Linked DNA regions of Homo sapiens: all the other regions are linked to region 1. Evidence: fine-mapped expression QTL. A gene starts in region 1. Each other region holds a variant in brackets. All regions are shown on one strand. Distances are from middle to middle.

Region 1 (6,774 bases):
AGTTCAAATCCAGCCTGGGCAACATGGCAAAACCTTGTCTCTACAAAAAATACAAAAATTAGCCAGGCATGGCGGCACATGACTGTAGTCCCAGATACTCAGGAGGCTGAGGCGGGAGGATAGCTTGAGCCTGGGACGTGAAGGCTGCAGTAAGCTATGATCATGCTACTGTATTCCAGCCTGGGTGACACAGCAATATCCCGTCTCAAAAAATAAAATAAAATAAAATAAAATAAAAAGTTAGAAGAAATTACAAGTCAAATTCAACTCCTGGTTATACTGGACCATCCAAAACCAGGTATAAAGTCTCCCTGGTCAAAGTAGGCTTTTCGGGGCCAGATTTCAAGCTAGCTGAGTTCATACCATCCCATCTAGTCCTTCATTTCCTGTGGGTGGGATCGCTCATCCTCCTTCTCAGGAGGCCACAGTCACCACTGTATCCGCTGCTAAGTGGTCACCTCCCTCCGGGGCCTGCCTTCTTCCAGAGAAAGTCTGAGGCCATTTTTAAGTGCCCCTAAGCACGCAGATCCTGAACTCCAATTTCATCCTTATGGCTCAAATATGGTCCTATCGCTTACTCTTACGCTCTAAGCTTGGGGAATAAAAGGGACTCAGGCTCTCATGGAGAACACACTTCCTTTAGTGAGGACTTTCAGGGTATATTCAAGCTTTCACAACACAGAGAAAGAACCCAACTTTGAGATATCAGGAAGACGTGTTCCCCCGCCCCCCCAAATAAATACTTTGCTGAGTAGCAGTATTGGAAATTAATCCAGGAAATTTTTTAACTACGTATGCAGTACATTTGTCTGGACATCAACAAGTCCGTATGAAACCACAATAATGACTATAAAAAGAAGAATCTGGCAAAATGATACTACAAATAGATTACTGACAATAAATGGAGTGTGAGCCTACTTTGTATAATCACAGAATAACAGATCTGAAAAACATTCAGTCTTAGGGATTTAAAACTTTCTGCTCTGATTTCAAAGGATGTTGTTCCTAATAGTATATACCAGGCCCAGTGGCTTCTCATCAACAAATGCAATTAGTTTTGCAACAGTCTCTAACCCAAGATATGGAAGTTCTTGCAATGAATTTGAAAAGATTCTAATTTAGAATTTGGGGAATTTTTTTTTTTTAAGATGGAGTTTTGCCCTGTTGCCCAGGCTGGAGTGCACTGGAGTGATCTCGGCTCACTGCAACCTCCACCTCCCGGGTTCAAGCGCTTCTCCTGCCTCAGCGTCCCAAGTAGCTGAGATTACAGATCCATGCCAACACAATTGACTAATTTTTTGTATCTTTAGTAGAGACGGGGTTTCACCATGTTGCCCAGGCTGGTCTCGAACCCCTGACCTCCTGATCCGCCCGCCTTGGCTTCCCAAAGTGCTGGGATTAGAGGCGTGAGCCACCGCACCCGGCTGGAAAATTTTTTTTAAATCTTCTACCACAGTCACATATAGTTCTGAAGCTACGATTTAGAAGTGTTAAAAATTCTGTTTTGAGAAAGTCAACAGATTTATCAACATTAAAGAAATTTGTGTATGTCAAAACTACTGTAAATATATAAAGCAAAGATAAAATGGGAAAAGTATCTGCAATATGAATGGCAAAGATTTACTATCAATCCATAAAAGGCTCTTATGAATTAATGGAAAAATACTAATATCCCAGGAGAAAAATCTGGCACTACATCAAATTTCAAAATGGAAAACAACTAGATTTCTTTGGTGTTCAAATCATCTGTAATCAAAGAAATTGAAGTTTAAATATAGAGAAAGCACTGTTCACCTATAAACCTGGGAAGAATTTTTTTTTTTTCCCTTTAAGGATGATTCTACATGTTGACAAGAATACGGTAACACCAGTATTCTCACAGAGAGCTGGTGGGAACATAATTTGGTTAAACATTTTTTGGAAAGCAAATGGTCAATATGTATGAGGAGATCTTCCAACCATCAACTGTATTTCAAGGGCACTAAGGATATTAACCCTGCACATAAAGTTTTAAAAACGTATTTGTTGCAAAAGTATATTTAGTAAGTGGAAATAAATGAAAACCAGTTTGATACATCTATGTAATGTAATATTAAGTAGCCACTAAGATTTCTGAAGATTTCATGACATGGAAAATTTTTCATGATACATTAATCAGGAAAAAACCTCCACGCAATAGTATATTTAGATAAACTATATAACTATAAAAAATTTTTCTATATATTAACAAGTATTTTCTTAAATATTAACTGTGATTATCTTTGCTGAAATTGCTTAACTCACTTTTCTCAATCTACCTATTTTTATACAGCAAGCACGGATTACTTTTGAAATCAAAACAAACAGGGTTAACAGAACAGGGCTATTAAGTAACAGGCTTTTTAAATGCTTGAGTGTAATAACTGCAGGTTAGTTTCCAAAAAATATAAGATATTATCTAGAATCTTATAATCCTATTATACTCCAAAATGTAACCTTGACTTATTGACATAATTAAAAGGTCTTGTTCCAAGCATGATTTTCTACCAAGCAGATTTACCAAGAATTATTTTCTCTTCATAAACCTGATTTTAAAAAGAACAGGTGAAAAAACGTGGTGCAAGTTACATAAATAACTACATATTATTTTAAACTAAATTCCACTTCTAAGGTTTTTTAGCTTTGGTTTTAAGGATAAGCATGTAGTTCTAATCTTTTCTTTGTATAGCTTTCCTAATGGAATATATTGCCTATGAAAAAAAAAAAATCTGTAACAGCACTTTCTACACTGTAAAGCACTGTACTAACAGGACATCACCATTTTAAGTTGTGTATCATTTCCTGCCCTAACCATCCCTGAAAAAGCAAACTGTCTACAGAATTGCAATTCCGTTTATGCAATTCCTTTTAAAGTTGTCCATGCACTGTTATCTTGTATATACCCTCCTTAAAGAGGTCACTGGTTCCCAGGAAGCAATGACTCTCTTTTTTAATCCCCTCCCTCCTGCATTGCCTCCCTTCCTCCTGAAATTCACTGGTAACACCCCTACTCCCACCCTCCAGCCCCAGCGCTGTGATTTAGTGATGATTGACTTTCGATCACCTGCACCTGGCAAAACTTGAAAGCTTCCACGCACCGTTTTGCCTAAGACTTTGGTTTCATTGAAACAAACAAAACACACTGGATTTCCTTTCTTAGAACACTGACTACTTCAAACAAACAGTATTTAACAGAGTATGTGTAACTACGCAGGCTAAATGAATTAACCTCTTCCTTCCTAGTCCCAAATTACTCCAAGTCAAAAATCAACAAACAACTTGGTAGAAAGGAGTACGTCTTCAAAAAAGAACAAAAACGTTCCTCAGTGAACACCTAAGTCCACTAAGCACTATAGAGTAGTCAATAAGGTCACCTTAATTAAGATGAGATTTTTCTAGAGCGTGAAAAAGTGCAAACAAGCTGCAGAAAGTAGCGAGGCGCCACGAGGGGTCTTTGGGACCTGCAGCAACCCTATTCCACCCGCTTTCTCGGCCCCGCTTGCTTCTGCTGAGAAGGGGCCCTGCGAGAAGGCTGGGACCGCCGGGCCCGGGTGGGCGGCGTAAGGAGTCCACAGTCAAGCCCCTCGGTCACTTTCAAGGTGACAGCGACGAGATCCGCATCCGTCCCTTCCGCAGGCTCTGCGCTGGCCCACGTGAGACCCGCCTCCGCTCCGCCGGCGCTGCCGCCCCCTTTAGCCCTCAGCTTCGGCCCCCAGGCCCCTGGAACGCCCCCTCCCCTCCCCGAGGACCGGTCCCGTCACCCTGGGCGGCGCGCTCGCCTGTCCCCTCCCCACCCCGGCCGCCGGGCAGCGGGAACAGATTCCAGCGCGCACTTACCCGCAGCTCCTTCAAGCGCTCCGGGAGCAAAGACGCAGAGGCGGGGAGGGCTGGCGCCCTTTGCACCACTGGCGGGGTCGCCGAGAACCCGCCCCGGAGGTCTCGGGGGCGGCGTCTGCACCTGGGGGCGCGCGGCGCGGCACCACCCCACGCCTGCGGCGGCTACCAGGCGGGACCCGGAGCCCCGGCCTCCCCGCCTCCCCGCCTCCGGGGCCGCCAGGGGGTGGAGCAGGGCGGGGAGTTCGGGAAACTTGTAAATAGCCGAACTCGGGCCTCCCGCCCCAACCCGGGGCGGCTCCTTCCGAAGGCTCCACTCCAGCGGCTCGCTGCGGGAGACCAAGGCCAGCCGCCGTCCCAGGGGACGGCCCTCGGGGAACCTGAATGACGTGCGAGGCCGTACCTCGGGGCGCTGGACTCCGCTCGGGCGCTCCCGCTCTCCGCTCCCGCTCTCGGGTCCCAATCCCGACGCTCCGCGCGCTCCCGGACTAAGTGCGGACGCGCCCCACGCCCCCCGGCGCCAGCCCGGGACAGCGCTGCACCTGTTGCCACGTGCGACGCGGCGCTCAGCGGCTGCCACTGCCGCCGGCGCACCTGGCTGCACCGCGCGTCCCGGGACCACGCTCGTCCCCGCAGGAGCCCGGGGCTCCGCCGCACCCAGCGCTAGGGCCCAGGCCGGGCCGCGGTAGGTGGGGGATCTGACTCCTGCTTGCCTCTGGCCACCTGCAGGCCGAGGGGCCTCGCACCGCGGGGCGTATAGAAGGTGGGAAGGTTGCAGAATTATCAGGGCGGAAGCTTGCAAGGAAGGAGTCGTGATTGTCTCTTAGAAGGGCTGATTCGCAGTCTGTATTATCTTCATGCTTCTAGCAAGTTTACTAGCAAGTGTGTATTAAAGGTTAAAGAAAGTAGCTTTCCAGCTATTAGAGCTTGAGATACAACGTGGAAAGGAGTCTAGAACCCCAGGGAGATAAACTAGGCTCGACCTACTTTTCTCTAAACACAAACACAGTCCTTGCTGTTTGCTAAACTGAGCAAATTTCATCGACAGCTGTCTTCTAGGTCCGTAAAATATTTTCTTCTATAAAGCATATTTTTAATAGAAAACTTGTCCGAAGATGCTATTCTGCCTGTGAGAGATGTCACATTGCTGAACCGTGAAATGTCAGACAACCTGAGAACAAAATTTTAATATTTCCTTTTTAATTACCTGGATTGTGGTTTGCTAAAAGCTTTTAAAGAGAAGTGAACTTTTTTGGAGAATAGACGTAAGGACTCTGTATTTCACAGTTTTCTATACCATGAATATTAGAATAACTGACAGATGTCTTGCCATTGATAGTTGTAAAGACTTTTCATATGTACAATGATCCATTATTTCCTGACTACAAAACCCAGGGGTATATAGGTCAGATTATCTCCATTATTCAAATGAGGAATTGAAGCTCAGAAAGGTCAAGTGACTAGCGCAAGGTCACACAGCCAGTGAGGGCAAGTGCAAACCCAGCCAGCCTAACTCCTAATCTTCTCTTTTAATTCCATTACATAATGACACCTCTCATTTGCTTCAGAAATCCCTGTTGTAAAGATAGATGCAACTAGCATGATCCGTGTTGTTAGGAAAGGCATGTGATTAATTTTAAATAGATATAGTATTTAACACCACCAGATGAGTCTCCCTCTGAAAAAGCACACAAAAACAAAACAAAACGCTGACATAGTTTCCGCAAGTCACGAGGCAATTATGCTAATTAGCAACAAGCCTCCATCCCTAAGCAGAATAGTTCTTGTGTGAAACATATCATTTAATCTTTATAACCCTGATGTGACCTAGATGATTTGGTCTAAACCCCACAATCCTATTGTGTGGCTTAGTTATATCTATAAATATAGAACCTGTTTTACTTCATTTTTGTGTCAGGTGGTTTGAAGGGGGGAAACATACAATGCTCTGCTAAGTAATTAGAGCTACTTACGCAGGCATTGGGGAATCTGAAACTTAGCTTCTAATTGTCTCCACATAAAAACAGAAGTTAACTTCTAGGGACATCTTCAGGGACTCCTCAAGGCAAATATTCATGAAATGGGGCCTATTGGCTTTTCTTTTCATCTTGGTTCTGGGCATGTTGCCATGTTCCTGATCTCTGAACTCTGATGCTGACCTGCTACAGACTCCAGGAGCAATATTAAGGATAAAATAATAACTCACATAACTTTGTGGCTCTTTATTCTAAAAAAAAAAAAAAAAGTTGGCTCAATTTTTTTTCCTCCATAAGAAAATGCAAATTGCAACTGTATTGAGAAACCATTTTTTCACTTATCAGATTGTCAAAGATTAGAAAGTTTGATAATCACAGTGTTGGTAAAAGTGTAGACTAGCAGTCACAATGAAAATGTAAATGTAAATTATAATGACCTCCCTAGGGGGAAGGTCAGGATACCTAACAATATTGCAACTATACGTATAAGAGTTTATCTTGGCCCTGCGTGGTGGCACGGTGACTCATGCCTGCAATCCCAGCACTTGGGGAGGCCGAGGCGGGCAGATCACCTGAGGTCAGGAGTTGGAGACCAGCCTGGCCAACATGGTGAAACCCTGTCTCAACTAAAAATACAAAAATTAGCCAGACATGATAGCAGGCGCCTGTAATCCCAGCTACTTGGGAGGCTGAGGCAGGAGAATCCCTTGAACCTGGAAAGCGAAGTTTGCAGTGAGCCGAGATTGTGACACTGCACTCCAGCCTGGGCAACGCACCGCGACTCTGTCTCAAAAAAAAAAAAAGAGTTTATCTTACAACACACAGGAGAAATGGTATGTATCTACAACCTTGTTTATTTCAGCATTGTTTATAATAAGATATATTTCAAATACAAATATTCTTTAGTAAAGGACTGATAAATCATGATATAGGCATAAAATGAAAT
Region 2 (8,421 bases), 150 kb before region 1:
GTAATTGTAGATTAGTCTATTCAATAACTAGAACAAGTTTTTAGAAGTTTAGCTTTCAATATGAAATAGATGCATAGATTAAGAACATTCAACTTTGTTTAGACATTTTTTACGATATTCAAAAATATTTACCAAGTTTGTCCAATTTTCTTATACAGCAGAAATTGTTACAGCCAGCCAAAATTTATTTGTCAAACATAGATAGCTTTGAATTTAGAGAAGAAGAGCTTACCTCTCACTCTAGCTCTGTGAGCCCATGACCAACTCTGCGGTTGCAGTGGAAATTCCTGGGAAATATAAACTAAGAGGAGATACGACCTTTACTGTGCTGTCACAGGGCTGTAAAAATGAAGAATTTGAAGAATGAAGTAGGTCAGAGGATGCAATTCTTGAGTATTCCAGCATTATTTATTTGATCAGAGTAAAATACACTTCCCATCACTACAAACTGAGCACAACTACAGTTGTCTACACATTCATATTTTTGACGTGCCAACATTTTGCATTCTACATGAAACATTTGGTTTAAACAAAATCTTAAGAATTCTCTATTTTGTTTCCCATCTTCCCTCCTGTTCTCTCCCATCCTCCAAAGATGTTTTATATTAACTGCTATGAGATTTATTTGCCGGTCACGTAATACGGAGGACAGCAGGGAACAACACAAGATTTACCATGCCTAGGGGATGAATGGCAAACCCAACTTTGGCTAATGTCATTGAGAACAACTTGGAAGCGTGAGCAGAGATATCTCATGAAGTGGCAGTGAACCTACATTTCCATTTATCAGAAGCAAACATGGAAGGTTACATACATGATGAAGTATTGGAAGTTAAAGACTTAAGACACAAAATCACTAATTTAAAAGAACATGCAACATGAGTATCAACTTGCTATGTAGTGTACATGTAAATGACCCAAATATTCACCTCTAGCATCCTGAATCTCTTCTTACTACAGCTGTTATTTGTACAGCCACTGAATGTAGATTAGTAAATACTGACATCACAATGTTGACACATGCAGGGAGGGGGAGATAAAGCAACAGTTCTTCCTTCCACCTTTTCCAAAGTCTCAGGATTAGGGGAGGTAATAAGTTTTGGAAAGAAACTGAAATGCAACCTGGAGGAGAGTTGGACAAGCCACATTTTCCACTCATGGGAAAGAAGCGGACCATTCTGCTACTTTCCCAAAGACAAAGGGACTCCTTAAAGGGTAACTGAAAAATGAGCGCTATCCTCCCAGACTGTTTTCTTCTATCAAGTACTGCATCATCGGTAAGCACTGAATCCTACCTTTCTTAATTATACTAGCCAATGACTTCCTTGTTCTCGTTCTTTATTCTAAGATTTCCCAAAATTTGTAATATCAAATCCAGGCTTTAGTTTATTTGGAAAGTGGTTTCAGCACCTGGAAGATGAGCTGGCTCTGGGGCTCTGGAAAATCATATTCCTTTATCCTTGTCCCAGAGAAAAGTAGGTAGGAGGTAGAAGGTTTGCTTTTGTGGCTCTGGATGGTGGAGAAAGGTAAAAGGAAAATGAGAATAATGGGAGGGAAGAAGACAGGTTAAATCTGCAAGGGTAGATCAAAGGTAAAAATAAGGTGGAAAAACCCATTGGTACTTCCCTTTTTCTTTCTTTACACAGTTAGTTAGTTAGTTTGTTTTTTTATAGAAAAATTAGGGTTCTACATTTACACATAGCCTGAGAAAATGAATTACAGGATAGTGTTAGGCTCACATGGGTAAGTAAAAAATCTACAGAAAAATCTAGTTTCAACTGACATGGCTGAACACTGAAAAACTGCCAAGAAGTTACCCCCAAAAGATACAGAGAATGTATAGACAGGGACAAGTCAAAGCTCTTCCTGTTATACCCTCTCCCTACCCTGTTACAGGGCTGAGCAGAGTTGGTGGTAGATGATCATAATTCAAGCAACTATTGCTTTTTCTTCTATGGCTTTGGCTGAAATGTATATGCTGATTGATTGATTATTATTTGATTAGTACATATCCAGATATATTCAGATTTTGACATTTAATACACAGCAGAGGAGGCTGCATCAGACACATGACACTCTGTGACATCCATTTCATTCACACCCCCCACCCCCACAGTCAGACTGAAAACTCACAAGAAGGTGTCTGTGGTGAAGAACATTACAAAGGTTATAAATCTTAATAGGGCCCTGAGAGTTTTTCCCCCTATGCTTAGGTGAAAAAGGCAATGAACAAGATGCTCTCGTTCTTTAAGTGCTTTGTGCAACAACGTCCGTGTCGATGCCGAAATCTTTTTTTAAATCTTTTTTTGGAGGAATCTTTTGGACGGAGGCAAAAGTCTTCCTCCAGAGTTCCAGTCTCAGAAGCTGCGATTCCGCCGGTGGTGACGCTCCAGTTACCCTACGGTGATCACACGTGTGCTGATATACCTCTTGTGCCCACGTTCCTCCTTGGGGTCAGTCCTGCAGACCTGCATCAAAATGCTTTCAGAGAGTCTGTGGACTTTGGGGAGGTGTCATCTGGGTGAAATGCTGGGGCTAGGGAAGGAGCCCGAATTCCTTGGTGACTGCAAAGGGATGGCGGAGGATGTGGGGGATCTCTTGGGGCTACACAGGTCCCCATTGTGCAGTTTCCACAGAAGCTCCTCGTTTTCCATAGAGAGTCGCTTGTTGACTTTCGACTCCTTCTCCAGCGACTCTTGCAGAACAGCCTGCTCCGTGGAAAGCTGCCTTGAAGAAAAAGGCCAGAAACCATGAGATCTATGTAAAAAAAAAAAAAACTTGAAAAATTTTTCTTAGCGTTTGAAACTTTAAAGTCCAAAATTATTCCTTTGGGATAAAACAGAATCCTGCACAAGGTCACAGGTATTTGGCTGGCTAAGAAAACCCAAACACAGGCCGGGCGTGGTGGCTCAAGCTCATAATCCTGGCACCTTGGGAGGCCAAGGTGGGTGGATAACTTGAGGCCAGGAGTTCAAGATCAACTTGGGCAACATGGCGAAACTCTGTCTCTATTAAAAATACAAAAATTAGTCACGCATGGTGACATGTGCCTGTAGTCCCAGCTACTCAGGAGGCTGAGGTGGGAGGACTGCTCGAGCCTAGGAGGTGGAGGCTGCAGTAAGCTAAGATCACACCACTGTACTCCAGCCTGGGCAGAAGAGTGAGACCTCATCTCAAAAAAATATATAATAATAACTGTACTTTTTGGGCAATTTCATAGTAGGCTGAGAGCCACTTTTGCAAATATTCGACATGTTTTATGACTACCTTATGTTGCAGGCTGTTTTCTATTTGGTTTTGTGTTGCTCTTTGTCTGAAAGCATTCTCAGAGGCAGCCAGAGGCCGTGGGAGCAGGCTTGCTGGCCTGGGTCTCAGTGTACAGTTTTCAGGCCGCTTTGGTAAAAGCATGAACTACTACAATCATATTTTCCACAGAGAAATCAATGCCCTTTTAACCATCTGCTTCCATCATATTTCCAGGAGGTGCAGGGGTAGAGCGTGTCCAGAAAGTACACTGGATGTCCAAGGGAGCGGGGAGCTCGGGAGAAACAGCACTGTTTTATTTTTACCTTGAGATTGCCATGTGCTTGTCCATCCGAGCTTTCAATTCTTCATTCTCCTGCTGGAAACGCTTCAATTTGTCAACCAATGCTGTGTTGTTGTCCACCTTGGCATAAACAAGAATTCCAACATTTATACAATATTAAAAAAAAAACCCCTCATTTCTTAAGGCACCTCACGACACAAGCACACTTTGGAGATTTAATTAAGGAAAATGCAATTCCATATTAAAATATTTATACACTAACAAACATACTGAAAAAGATTTTAAAACAGCAAAACAGAGCGGCTGGGTATTTTTAAAACATGTATGCCAGGACACTTAAATATTGATACGAGTGGGTAACAGATTTGTTCCAGGTCATGTTGTTTTGGAATTCTCTAAGAATTGGTGCCTCTTTCTGTTTCAATGTGAAATAAACCCTGCAGACACACTGCCCACACTTATCAAAGCTTATCTATCTCCTTACGGTGAATTTTGCTGGAAAAAAAAAAAAAAAGATTCCCACATCTGATGAAAACTCACAGGCCAGCAATTCACAGTCCCTGGCAACGTTTACTATGGACTTGAACTCAGTTTCATGGTAAGTTTTCAGCATTTGCGTCTGAGTGGCCATACAAAGCTTCAATTCGATAGAGCTCTTAGAGCATGCCATCAAAGAAGTAACATGCCACGAGTCTCCTCAGGTCAGCTGAAGATAGATAGGTCTGTTCTCTTGCTGCCCTGTGCAGGCTGAACTTTCAAGGCAAACAAACTGATCAGCGGAGAGATGAAAGGATAAGATGCCTGAGGACATTTAATCACTTAACATGATGAAGACCTGATTCCATCCCCCACTCACTTTCTAAAGGTAAGGCTTTATGAAGAGGCAATATTATAGCTCCGTCAGGATTAAGTCTAAGTCCTTGTCCTTGTAGCAGGACTAACGCGCTTTGAGTATGTTGCTTAGTTTGGAACCTGATTGTTCTTAAGACATCCTGTTATCCAGAAGCAGCTCAGGACAACCTGTTCAG[G/A]TTAAATCACTTTCCAGAAAAGGAGTCTACGTTCAGTAATTATGAAGGATTCCCAGATAAAACAACGTGGAAAAAAACCTGGAATTTGAGATTGGGAGGTATTGTCCTTTAAATATCTCATCCTAGGGAAACTAGTCCTAATAATGTCACAGAGCTGATTATGGGCAGTGCCGGTTTCATGGGAAAGCTGTCTTTCTTAGAAAACTTCCTGTGCTTCTAAGTCTCTTAATTTCATCAGAGGCCTGTAATTTACAAATATGAAGGGAACAGTGGGTCTCCCTCTCATTGTATCAACTCATTCTTGCACACATACACAATGCAAGGCTGAAGGATATTATCAGGATACCTCTGGGGCATGGCAAGAAACAAATAGTAGATCATCAGAAATTAAATGTGTTGGTAAGTTTACAGCAAAGTCTGATTTATTGCACATGATTTTTTGAAAGTTTTGATGCATGAATGGCATATGGAGCAGTCCTATTAACAGGATCATCTGAGTCATCCCTGACTACCAGATTAGAAGATACCAGACTCAGTCGAACAGGACGACCTTTGGCAGGAACTGGTATGTATACTAGGTTGGCCCATTAACAACCATGAGTTCCTTTCCTTCCTTTACAAAAATTTCCTGATAATTCAAAATGCTGGTATATCCACACAGGGGCTTGGCCGTTATCTCCCTCAACAGAAGTCATAGTCTCCAGAAGAAAACCAAACGCCAAACCAACACAAACCAAGCAGCAGAGAGGTCCCCCATGTCCCCTACTGTCCAGGGCTGGTTTGGGTTTGAATGAGGCACTTGTAGAAGCCTGAGTCACTCATCACTGTGGGGAGAAGAGGCCAGTAGCATGCGGCAGCTGGACAGTCAACAGCAAGGCACCGCGAGGGCGGGGATCACTTAAGCTGCCTTGCCAAACTCTGCCAACTTGGTTAGAGTCCTGGCTGGCAGCAGCTGTATTTCAGGGCCGGGCCAAGACTGACGCTGAACACTGAACATGCCACTCACACTAACATCGTTCTCTGTTCTAGACACTGCAAAGTGAATGTTAATTCATATTTTTGGTAACACCTGCTACTTGTCCAAATGGATTAATCTTATTATAGCACAATTTTTTTTTTGAGATGGAGTCTTGCTATGTCGCCCAGGCTGGAATGCACTGGTGCCATCTCACCTCAATGGAACCTCCACCTTCCCAGTACTTGGGATTACAGGCACCCACCACCACACCCGGCTAAGTTTTATATTTTTAGTAGAGACAGGGTTTCACCATGTTGGCCAGGCTGGTCTCGAACTCCTGACCTCAAGTGACCCACCCATCTCAACCTCCCTAAACTGCTGGCATTAGAGGAATGAGCCACTGCGCCCAGCCCACGATTCTTTTATCACATGCTAATTCACAAGAAGCAAGATGAAGAATTTTGATAAATAGTATTGCTATTCATTTCTATTAAATTCATTTCTATTCATTTCTATTAAACGTATCCAACTGTTTTGGATCTAAGAAACCTGTCCAGGGTGGCTGGTATATTAAAGTACTGATTTTACATAGATATTTAAACATTTTTCTTATGCAGGTGAAGATCCAAAATACCACTGAAATATAAGCCTGATTTGTTTGTAGTTTTTCCAAGGACTGGGTGCTGTTTTACATGTTCCTTGAAAAAGAAAACATTCTAGGAGGCAGCAATGAATAAATATGGAACAAACTTGGAAAGAAAATGTGAACTTTATCTTTTGTATAATTTCTAAATATCTTTAGGAGCAGTTAACCCAACTCCACAGTTCTAAAATGCAGGGCTCAATTTCACACATATTACCCCATTTGTAAGATCCTCTTTCATTCTGAAGGAAACATACCAGTTTCTCCATTTTCATTAACTTGATGTCCTGTTGATGCAGTTTCTCATTCTTGATCTCTAACACAGCTTTCAGGCTTTCTAACTCCTGTTCTAGATACATGATCTGAGGATTTTTCTGGAAAGGACACAGCAAGATACTGCTCTTATTCCACATAGTTCAAATTCTTAACAGAAAGAATCTTTGATTAGATTGAGACATTAGACAAGTAGCAAGCGACAGATGTTCATCATCTTAGAGCAATTTCAAAGAAAGAGGTGAAAAACAAGAGCACCTTAATGTCGAAGACTGGTCCTAATACTGAAAGCAAACATTTCACTTATTTATCAGTAACTTAATATGCAAAAATGTGAGTTGCATCAAACATGTTATTGTATCAAGAGAAAAACTTTGCTTACATACAAAACAGAATCTTGGCTGGAGATGAGGCAATCTGTGAGTCAGTTATTGGCATTTTCTGGGAGAACAGGGAACAACAGTTCTCTCCTACCAAACAAACTGATCAGGAAAGAAAAAGCAGTGCATTATACGGCTCTCTGGAAAACAACAGGGATAACAATGTCCTGAGTGTTTGGATTTTTGTTATGATGGGGCTACGTTGACTGGGCCATACTTCTAGGGCAGACATAATACTATCATTTTCTATTGTGACACCCCAGTACCTACACGGCATGGAGTACACAGCCTATTTAAATTTCTCTCCAAAAATTACAAGTTTGCCAGGCATAGTGGCATATGCCTACAGTCCCAGCTACTCAGGAGGCTGAGGCGGGAGGATCAACTGAGCCAGGAGGTCAAGGCTGCAGTGAACTGTGAATGCACCACTGCATTCTAACCTGGTGGCAGAACAAGATCCTGTCTCAAAAACACAAAACTCTCCAAAATAAATGCTACATCAGGGGAGGCGTCCTCTGAGAGCACACCATCAGTGTGGATTTCCCACCACCGCCCACCCACTCCTTGCTTTATTCGGAAATTCAACTAAACCATTCAAAATTTATGCTACAGAAGAACAGCATATGGTCCACTGATCAGATATGTTTAATGAAGCAACGTCTTAGGTAAGAGTCGGTGGTGTGGTCATCAAGCTTATCTTCCGGGGCATTGGTTTCTGCTCTGGACCAATCCTTAGGGAGAATCCAGGAAGGGGCCTCGGGGATTACTTAATCCAAACCCCTTACTTCACACAGAAAGAGGAAACGTGTTCCACGGGTTAAGCGCCCTACTCAGGAAAGATCAGGAAAGCTTCCAGAGCTGGAAAGGGTCAGGGCAGGGACTAATACATCTTTAATTCTAGGTTCTTTAGATAGTTCCCTGAGGCTAGGAGAGGTATGCGTGTGTATGGTGGGAGGTGGGGTGGGGTGGGATGAGGAGAGGTTGGTTAATGCATACAAACATACAGTTAGACAGAAGGAATAGGTTCTAGTGTTCAAGAACATAGTAGGGTGACTATAGTTAATAATAATATATTGCGTACTTCAAAATAGCTACAAGAGAAGATATAAAATGTTCCAAACACAAAGAAATGATAATGATGACGGATACCCTAAATACCCTGACTTGGGCATTACACAGTCTATGATTGTCTCAACACATCACACGTACCCCATAAGTACATGCAAATACTAAGTATCAATTTTTAAATTTCATACATTTTATACAGTGTTACCCTTGTACGCAGGATTTTTTTTTTTTTTTTTACCTTGAAAATAGCGAATCCTACCTCATTTTTGTTAGAGGGAAATGGCATAACTTACCGTCAGTTTTAAAATTAGAGCATTTACAAGACTTGTACCCTCTGCATTTTCTCCTCCTCCTCTGCCAGCCCATCCCTTTCTCCCGGACTACAGTCAGACGCACTCTTTTTCCGCAGCCTCAGCATGCTTACGTGACAGAAGCGGTTGGATGCTTCTGTGTTCCTCACTCTGACTCTGCCTTAGCTTTTCAAAAGCGGCTGCAGTAGAAGAATCCCCTTTGTGTACCGGAAG
Region 3 (8,421 bases), 99 kb before region 1:
CCGTCAGTCGTATGTGAATGGTGGATAAGGAGAATTTGGGAGACAACAACATGTCTTCGGAGCAGGTGGCGAGATTTCACAGAAGAGGCAATTTCCATGGACTGTCACATACTGTCTTTTTAAACTCAGTACTCTTCAAGGCCAAGAAATACAGTCAGAGGAAAGATGCCTACACAGCAAATGTCATTCCACCAGAGAGGCATAGAAGAAAAAAATCCCCCAGGGCTGGCCAAGTGTTTCTGGCTTCCGTTTTCACTTTCAGATGTTGCCAAAATGATGCTCTTCCTCTGAATACAATCTCCCTCCTGCAGGTCTAGAAGCTGCCTCTGAACCACATCACACTGTGCATGCTTGTGGAGTTGTTATGGTTTTCATCCGAGATGGTAAAGGGGAGGAGAAAGTGGGTGGTCTCAGGAGCTTTACAGAACAACCAATAATGTCACAGATCCTGTAACCACTTGAAAGATCGCTAGGGGAAATTAACTACTTCAAGTGCCTAATGTTTCTTTCATAATTAGAAAAAAATTAGGATTTCCTGAAAGTAAACTGTGTCCTGATTTTAACATTTTTCACTCCTTATATTCACAATGATAACATGAGCATTTTTTCTCTAGATATTTTACATGTAAACTACATTTAAACCTGGTATTTTGGAAAAGTTTTTTTTTTAAAGACTTCAGGCAATAAATGTTCTCAACTACAATATTTAAGAAAATTTCTATTCTAATATATTAATGACAGATTGTCAAAAGGTTAAAGTTCAACTTTAATTCCCACATGCTGAGGACCTCACAAATAATCAACAGTAAAAGATTAATACGGTTTCTCTATCAGATGTAATATCAGAGTTCCAGAAGAATAGTCCATCAGATAGGCATATTCTAAAGACTACATTTATTGCATGAGTAATTGCATTTATAGAACATCATGTGGTCTCTTATAGTGGTCTTTCAAGACTAGGAGTGTGAGGAGGGCACAGTTATGAATATCTTTTGCCAGTTATCTACTAATTTTTATTTCAGTAGAGTGGCTTGTAAAAGTATGTTAAAACATGATAGCAAAACCAAAAGAACTTGAAAAACAAAGATATGGTTATAAGAATTAACAACAACAATATGCCCACTTAAGCTAATTCCATTAAACCACGAATAGCCTGAGCTCTTAACATTTTTAAAAATGTTATAAACAAAACAATGTTTTAAAAATGTCCTATGCCTGTTTCCAAGATTTCCTAGAAAATAAGACTCAGAAATAAATGCAGAATTGTTACCATAAATAACACTATTAAGTGCTATTAAAACTAGCAGGAAGCAGTTCTTTTAGAAATTCTATAGAGTAGGGTATGAAGCAGGGAAGAGAGAGGGAGGAAGAGAAAATTTAAATAAGTTCTCTTCCCTCAAGCCCCCTCCCTCTTCACTCAAGCCCCCAACTTGCCATTTTAGAGGTTGTCAGCAAGAGAGACAGACCCAATAACCTGTCCAGGGTTCCTGTGAGAAAGATACACCTAGTTCATACACTGACGAAAAACCTGCTACATACATTGCACCACAGCAACTGAAGCTAAATGATCAAGGAATTAAAATCAAGGCCAGCTGCTTCTAGGTGTTGCCTTTTACTTCATCCCAGTTTATTATTAAAAAACCTGAACACCTTTTCCTTCCAGATTCTACATACTAAAAATATACCAGAACCTTTTCCTCTACCTCCCAAAACCTTGTAAAAACCAAGAAACCAATCAGCATTAAAAACAAACAGAAGAACAGAGTCAAATTTTGCCATGATTAAAAACAGACATGCCACCACTCCATATAGTAGGAGGTGGTTTTTCTTTCTTTTGGTTGTGTTTGTTGTTTCTTCAGTAACAGCAAATTCTAAATTATCCTTTTTTGTTTGTTTTTGTTTGTTTTTTGAGATGGAGTTTCACTCTTGTTGCCCAGGCTGGAGTGTAATGGCGCAGTCTCTGCTCACTGCAATCTCTGCCTCCCGGGTTCAAGTGATTCTCCTGCCTCAGCCTCCGTAGATGGGATTACAGGTGCCCGCCACCATGCCTGGCTAATTTTTGTATTTTTAGTAGAGATGAGTTTTCACCATGTTGGCCAGGCTCGTCTCGAACTCCTGACCTCAGGTGATCCACACACCTCGGCCTCCCAAGTGCTGGGATTACAGGGGTGAGCCACCACGCCCAGCCTTAAATTATCCTTGTTAAAAGGGAAGTTCTTTAGACTCCCTAAAAGAAGAAATTACCATCTAATCATCGATTAATCAGATTCATTAACATTTTTACTTGAATTACATTAAGCTATAACCACACATATTGAAAATAAACATTGTTAATGATATCTCTTAACAGCAGAGCAAGAAGCTGCAGGAATAAACTAAATTCAGTTCTTTCCCAAACATAGTCTGCCTCCTGGTGGCCGTGCAGCACAAGTGCACCAAAGCAAGGGAGCTGCCTTGGCAGTCCATAAACAAATGGCCATCGCTTACAATCTACTGCTCCAAGCACTCTCTTACACACTTTACGTTTGCTCATTTAAATAACTGGATAAGCAATTACTTTCAGGTCACAACTATTTTTATACTATATATGCCTCTGGGGGGAGCCAAGATAAAAAATTGGTTCCAAAAAATTCTTTGATTATTTGATCATCTGTTACCAGTTAGGAACTCCATATTTTCTGAAATTGAACGAATGTGAGAAGTACCTAAAAAAAGCATCTTTGTTATTTTTAAAAGTCTTAATTTAAGAGGAAAAGATAGGCATCACCAAGGACAGTAGAGGAAAAAATAAGGAAATTTTAGTGCCTAAAGTACAACAGTTTGTAGTTGTAAAAGTTAGCTATGAGTCTTTATGGGCCGGGCGCGGTGGTGAGATTACATGCCTGTAATCTCAGCACTTTGGGAGGCCAAGGCAGGTGGGATCACCTGAGGTCAGAAGTTCAAGACCAGCCTGGCCAACATGGTGAAACCCCGTCTCTACTAAAAACACAAAAAATTAGCTGGGCATGGTGACAGGGGCCTGTAATCCCAGCTACTCAGGAAGCTGAGGCAGGAGAACCGCTTGAATCTGGGAGATGGAGGTTGCAATCAGCAGAGATTGTGCCATTGCACTCCAGCCTGGGCAATAAGAGCAAAACTCCTCAAAAAAAAAAAAAAGATGAGTCTTTATGAAGCAGAGCCTGTGTTAGGATGTCAGTGGAAAACAAAAACATGATTTAAAATTTTATGCAATGTAGGATCTCAACATTAAACAAAAACGATTAAGTATATTGGAGCAAACATGCCAGAATGTCACCAATGCTCTGGGAGGTAGAAGAGGGAGGATTTCTATTTTTTCTTTATTATATGTTTTTGTATTTTCCTAATTTTTTTTTTCAAAAATCATGCAGCCAGAAAAAAATTAAAAAGTTTAAGTGTTAGAATAATTTTATAGAAAGCCTACAAAATGAGCCGAGTTTTCATAATGACACAAAGAAAAATAAACGATGTGTAAAGTCTATACTAAGGCTTAAATAACAAAAGAGGATGATACAGAATGTTTCATAAGTCAGTATGTTGTAATATCACAGTATATTCAAACAAACAGAAATTCCACTGGTCTGCATAGAAATGTGTTTTTTTAAATCAGTGATTTAGAAAACAATGATGTCATGATTCTAGACAAGAATCTAGCATAATCTGTATGGGGTGCTTAGATGCTACAAAATGCCTTCAATTTATCTGTTATTGTTTGTTGTTGTTAATGATCATAAAGAATGAGGAAGAAGATTAAAATTTAAACCAAGTGACTTGTGTGGAGATTCAAGCATCTCTATCCAACCAATCTTCCTTAGCCTAATATGGAATATTAATCTTTATATTTATCTCCTTACTTTCCCTAACACAGCATTAATTGCAACATTTTCTTCATTTTACTCCTCACAGTCTTTAATGTAGTAAGTTCAATTCTCTATTCCAGTTGTAGAAACTTCAACTTAAGGCCCAATTTTTCCACACTATCCTCTTCCTCAGTACGAAGATAAATTGTAATTATCAAAAAATTAACACAAAGCAATTAGAAAAACAATCAACTTCCACCCACCTGTAAGATGATAAGCTCTCAAAGAACAGTGACATTGCCTTTTATTTTGCAATAAGCAAAATAAGAGTTTAAATTAAAAGCAGTAATGCTTTTAATTCATGTACAATGTTTGTTTTTAAAAAACAAAACCTCATATGTTCATCGTAGAATTTTTTTTTTGAGACGGAACCTCGGTCTGTCGCCAAGGCTGGAGTGCAGTGGCGTGATCTCGGCTCACTGCAAGCTCCACCTCTCGGGTTCAAGTGATTCTCCTGCCTCAGCCTCCTGAGTAGCTGGGACTACAGGCGCCCGCCACCACGCCTGACTAATTTTTTTTGTATTTTTAGTAGAGACAGGGTTTCACCGTGTTAGCCAGGATGGTCTCAATCTCCTGACCTTGTGATCCACCTGCTTTGGCCTCCCAAAGTGCTGGGATTACAAGCGTGAGCCACCGCACCCGGCCAGAATTTTCTTTTCAATTTAAATTACTTACACATCAGACTGCTCTCCAATTTGTTTTTAAACTTAACATAAGCTTAATAAACTTATTAAACTTAAAAATTTCACACTTATCTTTCCATGGGATTAAATAAGCATTTATATTGTTATTTTAATGGCTTCAAAAATGTCTTTAAAATGTCAAC[G/A]AACTTAATTCCTGTAAGGTATATAGGTTGTTTCCAATTTTCCCCCATTGTAAACAATTCTGAAAAGCAGTCAATAAGTAAATAAATTACTTTCCTAGGACCAATTCTGAAAAACAGAATTCCCGGGTGGAAGGTGTTTGCTCTCTGCTACAGCTGCTGTAATTTACCAAGGAGCTGTACATATGAGTGCTGTTTCTTATTCTTCGCCAGTACCAGGTGCTAACATTAAGAAATAAGCAAGAACTGAGAGCACATTATTTTAACTCATATTTGGTAAACATTTTTCATATATTCCTTAGTCCTTCATATATTTCTTTTCTGTCCATCCACTTATTTTTCCCTTTCTTTTTGTTTAGTTTTTTTAATTGTGGCAAGAACACTTAATGAGATCTACCTTCTCAACAAAATTTTAAAAGAACAATATAATATTGTTAACTGTAGGCACAATGCTGTAACAAACATCTCGAAAACCTTTTCGCCCTTGCATAACAAACCTTGTACCATTGAACATCAAGTTCCCATTCCCTGGCAACCACCACTCTACTCTGTTTCTGACTTTGACTATGTTAGATGCCTCCTATAAGTGGAATCATACAGTATTTGCCCCATGACTGGTTTATTTCACTTAGCATAGTGTCCTCCAGCTTTATCTGTATCACAGCATATGGCAGGACTTTCTTCTTTTTAAAGGCTGCATAATACTCCAGTGCACATATATGCCATATTTGCTTTATCCTATGGACACATTTAGGTTGTTCCCACATCCTGGCTATCATAATGTGGCAATGACCATTGTTGCAGGGAGTCAGGGACCCCGAATGGAGGGACCGGCTGGAGCCACGGCAGAGGAAACATAAATTGTGACGATTTCATGGACATTTATCACTTCTCTAAAAATACTCTTATAATTTCTTACGCCTGTCCTACTTTAATCTCTTAATCCTGTTATCTTTGTAAGCTGAGGATGTACGTCACCTCAGGACCCTGTGATGATTGCATTAACTGAACAATCTGATTGCAAAATGTTTATTTGAACAATATGAAATCAGTGCACCTTGAAAATGAACACAATAACAGTGATTTTAGGGAACAAGGGAAGACAACCATAAGGTCTGACTGCCTGCGCGGTCGGGCAGAATACAGCCATATTTTTCTTCTTGCAGAGAGCCTATAAATGGACGTGCGAGTAGGAGAGATATCGTTAAATTCTTTTCCTAGCAAGGAATATAATATTAAGACCCTAGGAAAAGAATTGCATTCCTGGGGGTAGGTCTATAAACGGCCGCTCTGGGAGTGTCTGTCCTATGCGGTGGAGATAGCTTGGCCGGGTGCGGTGGCTCACGCCTGTGATCGCAGCACTTTGGGAGGCTGTGGCGGGCAGATCACGAGGTCAGGAGATCGAGACCATCCTGGTTAACATGGTGAAACCCCGTCTCTACTAGAAATGTAAAAACTTTGCCTAGCGTGGTGGTGCGCACCTGTAGTCCCAGTTAGTAGTCCCAGGCAGGAGAATGGCGTGAACCTGGGAGGCAGAGCTTGCAGTGAGCCGAGATCGCGCCACTGCACCGCAGCCTGGGTGACAGAGCCAGACTCTGTCTCAAAAAAAAAAAAAAAAGGACTGAGAGAGATACGCCCTGGTCTCCTAGTCTCCTGCAGTACCCTCAGGCTTACTAGGATTGGGAAACACCAACCCTGGTAAATTTGAGGTCAGACCGGTTCTCTGCTCTCAAATCCTGTTTTCTGTAAAGATATTTATCAAGACAATACGTGCACTGCTGAACATAGACCCTTATCAGGAGTTTCTGATTTTGCTCTGGTCCTGTTTCCTCAGAAGCATGTAATCTTTGCTCTGCCTTTTTCCCTTTGAGGCATGTGATCTTTGTGACGTACTCCCTGTTCATACACCCTCTCCCCTTTTCAAATCCCTAATAAAATCTTGCTGGTTTCGCGGCTTAGGTGGACATCACGGACCTACCAATATGATGTCACCCCTGGAGGCCCAGCTGTAAAATTCCTCTCTTTGTACTCTTTCTCTTTATTTCTCAGACCGGCCAACACTTACAGGAAACAAAAATAACCTACATTGAAATATTGGGGGCGACAGACCATGGGAATGCAAGTATCTCTTCAACATCCTGATTTCAATTATTTTGGTAAATAACGCCTTATCAGACGTATGGTTTGCAAATGTTTTCTCCTATCTCATAGGCTGCCTTTTCATGCTATTAAATGACTGCTTTGCTCTGCAGATTTTTAATCTGATGTACTCCAACCTGTCTATTTTTGCTTTTGTTACCTGGGCTTTTGGTGTCATACCAAGAAAAATGACATGAAGTTTTGCCCCATGTTTTGTTTGAGGTGTTTTATAGTTTCAGATCTTATATTTAAGTCTTTAATCCATCTCGAGTTGATTTTTGTGTACTGTGTGAGATAAGGGTCCAATTTCATTATTTTGCTTGTGGATGTCCAGTTTTCCCAGTACTATCTACAAAAAGACTATCCTTTCCCTATTGTGTATTCTTGGCACACTTGCTGAAGATTAGCTAACCGTATATGCACGGATTTATTTCTAGACTATTTTATTCCATCGGTCTATGTTTCTATATTTGTGCCAGTACCATACTCTTTTAATTACTGTGTGTTGTAATATACTTTAAAATCAGGAACTGTGATGCCTCCAGCTTTGTTCTTTGTCAAGATTGTTTTGGCTATTTGCAGTCCTCTGTCATTCTATATGACTTTTGGGATTGTTTTTTCTATTTCTTTAAAAAAATGACACTGGGATTTTGATAGGGATTGCACTGAATCTGTAGATCTCTTTGGGTGGTATGTCCATTTAGCTTCTATTATAGAGTTGTCTTTATCTTGCTGATTTGACAGAGCTCTACACAGAGTATGTGCTAATATAACCTCAGTTTGTTCTTTGCTTATAAATACTGTTTCTAATGATTTTTATTCTTTTTATTTTTTTTGAGACGGAGTCTTGCTCTGTCACCCAGGCTGGAGTGCGGTGGTGCAATCTCAGCTCACTGCAACCTCTGCCTCCTGGGTTCAACGATTCTTCTGCCTCAGCCTCATGAGTGCTGGGACTACAAGTGTGCACAACCACGTGCAGCTAATTTTTTTGTATTTTTGGTAGAGATGGGGTCTCAGTACGTTGCCCAAGCTGGTCTTGAACTCCTGGCCTCAAGCAATCCACCTGTCTTGGCCCCCCAAAGTGTTGGGATTACAGGCGTGAGCCACCATGCACAGCCTGTTTCTAAGGTTTTTTAAAGCTTTTGTTGTCCTAATTATTAATCGTTTCTATTATACTAGTGTTCCTGGAAAGATCTTTTCTACTTAAGTCTATATTCTTAGTGTTTTAATTACTTTGTGTGTTTAAAACTAATTTATCTGAAATACTTTGTATATATGTGAAAAAGATCTAGCTCCTGCTAAAAAGGTAGTCACTGTCTCAAGAAGATTTACTAAATGATCCACTCCTCACAACCCCCAACACCAATTTGAAACAAAAATGTATCCCATATGAAAAGAGCATCTGTGTTTTAAGTATAGGGGGAAAGTTATGTTAATCATAAAACAACAGTGAAAAAACAGCCTTCTCTCTACTCTCACCAGAAGAAACCCTGGCAGCCTCGGCATCACCTCATCAGCAGGTTTGCAACTTGCAACCACTTCCCAGCACTTGGCAAAAGAAGGCAAGAAAGCCGCCCTGTT

Direction of the effects. Positions count from the first base shown, and alleles are read on the strand shown. Sizes are in standard deviations (SD) of each study's normalised expression. Not every link is listed here.
With allele A in place of G in region 2, the expression in subcutaneous fat of the gene that starts at base 3,889 in region 1 is higher (small effect, 0.38 SD a copy in GTEx).

What was found.
Region 2: its variant is fine-mapped to the expression of MTUS1 in subcutaneous fat (GTEx, PIP 0.99). The same link has a PIP of 0.9 or more in visceral fat.
Region 3: its variant is fine-mapped to the expression of MTUS1 in whole blood (INTERVAL, PIP 0.92).

The regions. Positions count from the first base shown.
Region 1 is chr8:17,797,206-17,803,979 of GRCh38, forward strand. It overlaps MTUS1 (microtubule associated scaffold protein 1), which reads right to left and starts at 3,889. Exons shown (of 15, transcript NM_001363059.2): 1 at 3,856-3,889. It overlaps MTUS1-DT (MTUS1 divergent transcript), which reads left to right and starts at 4,137. Exons shown (of 3, transcript NR_186403.1): 1 at 4,137-4,537. RefSeq lists silencers at 4,003-4,122, 4,203-4,262, 4,303-4,492.
Region 2 is chr8:17,643,413-17,651,833 of GRCh38, forward strand. MTUS1 (microtubule associated scaffold protein 1) reads right to left here. Exons shown (of 15, transcript NM_001363059.2): 13 at 6,434-6,550; 14 at 3,570-3,667; 15 at 390-2,727. The coding sequence ends at 2,514. LOC124901891 (a long non-coding RNA gene) reads left to right here and starts at 3,667. Exons shown (of 2, transcript XR_007060834.1): 1 at 3,667-5,140; 2 at 6,151-6,545. The variant G/A (reference allele first, on the strand shown) is at 4,576.
Region 3 is chr8:17,697,326-17,705,746 of GRCh38, forward strand. All of the region lies in intron 6 of MTUS1 (microtubule associated scaffold protein 1), which reads right to left. Among named protein-coding and RNA genes, the nearest start is that of MIR548V, 20 kb to the left of the region's middle. The variant G/A (reference allele first, on the strand shown) is at 4,705.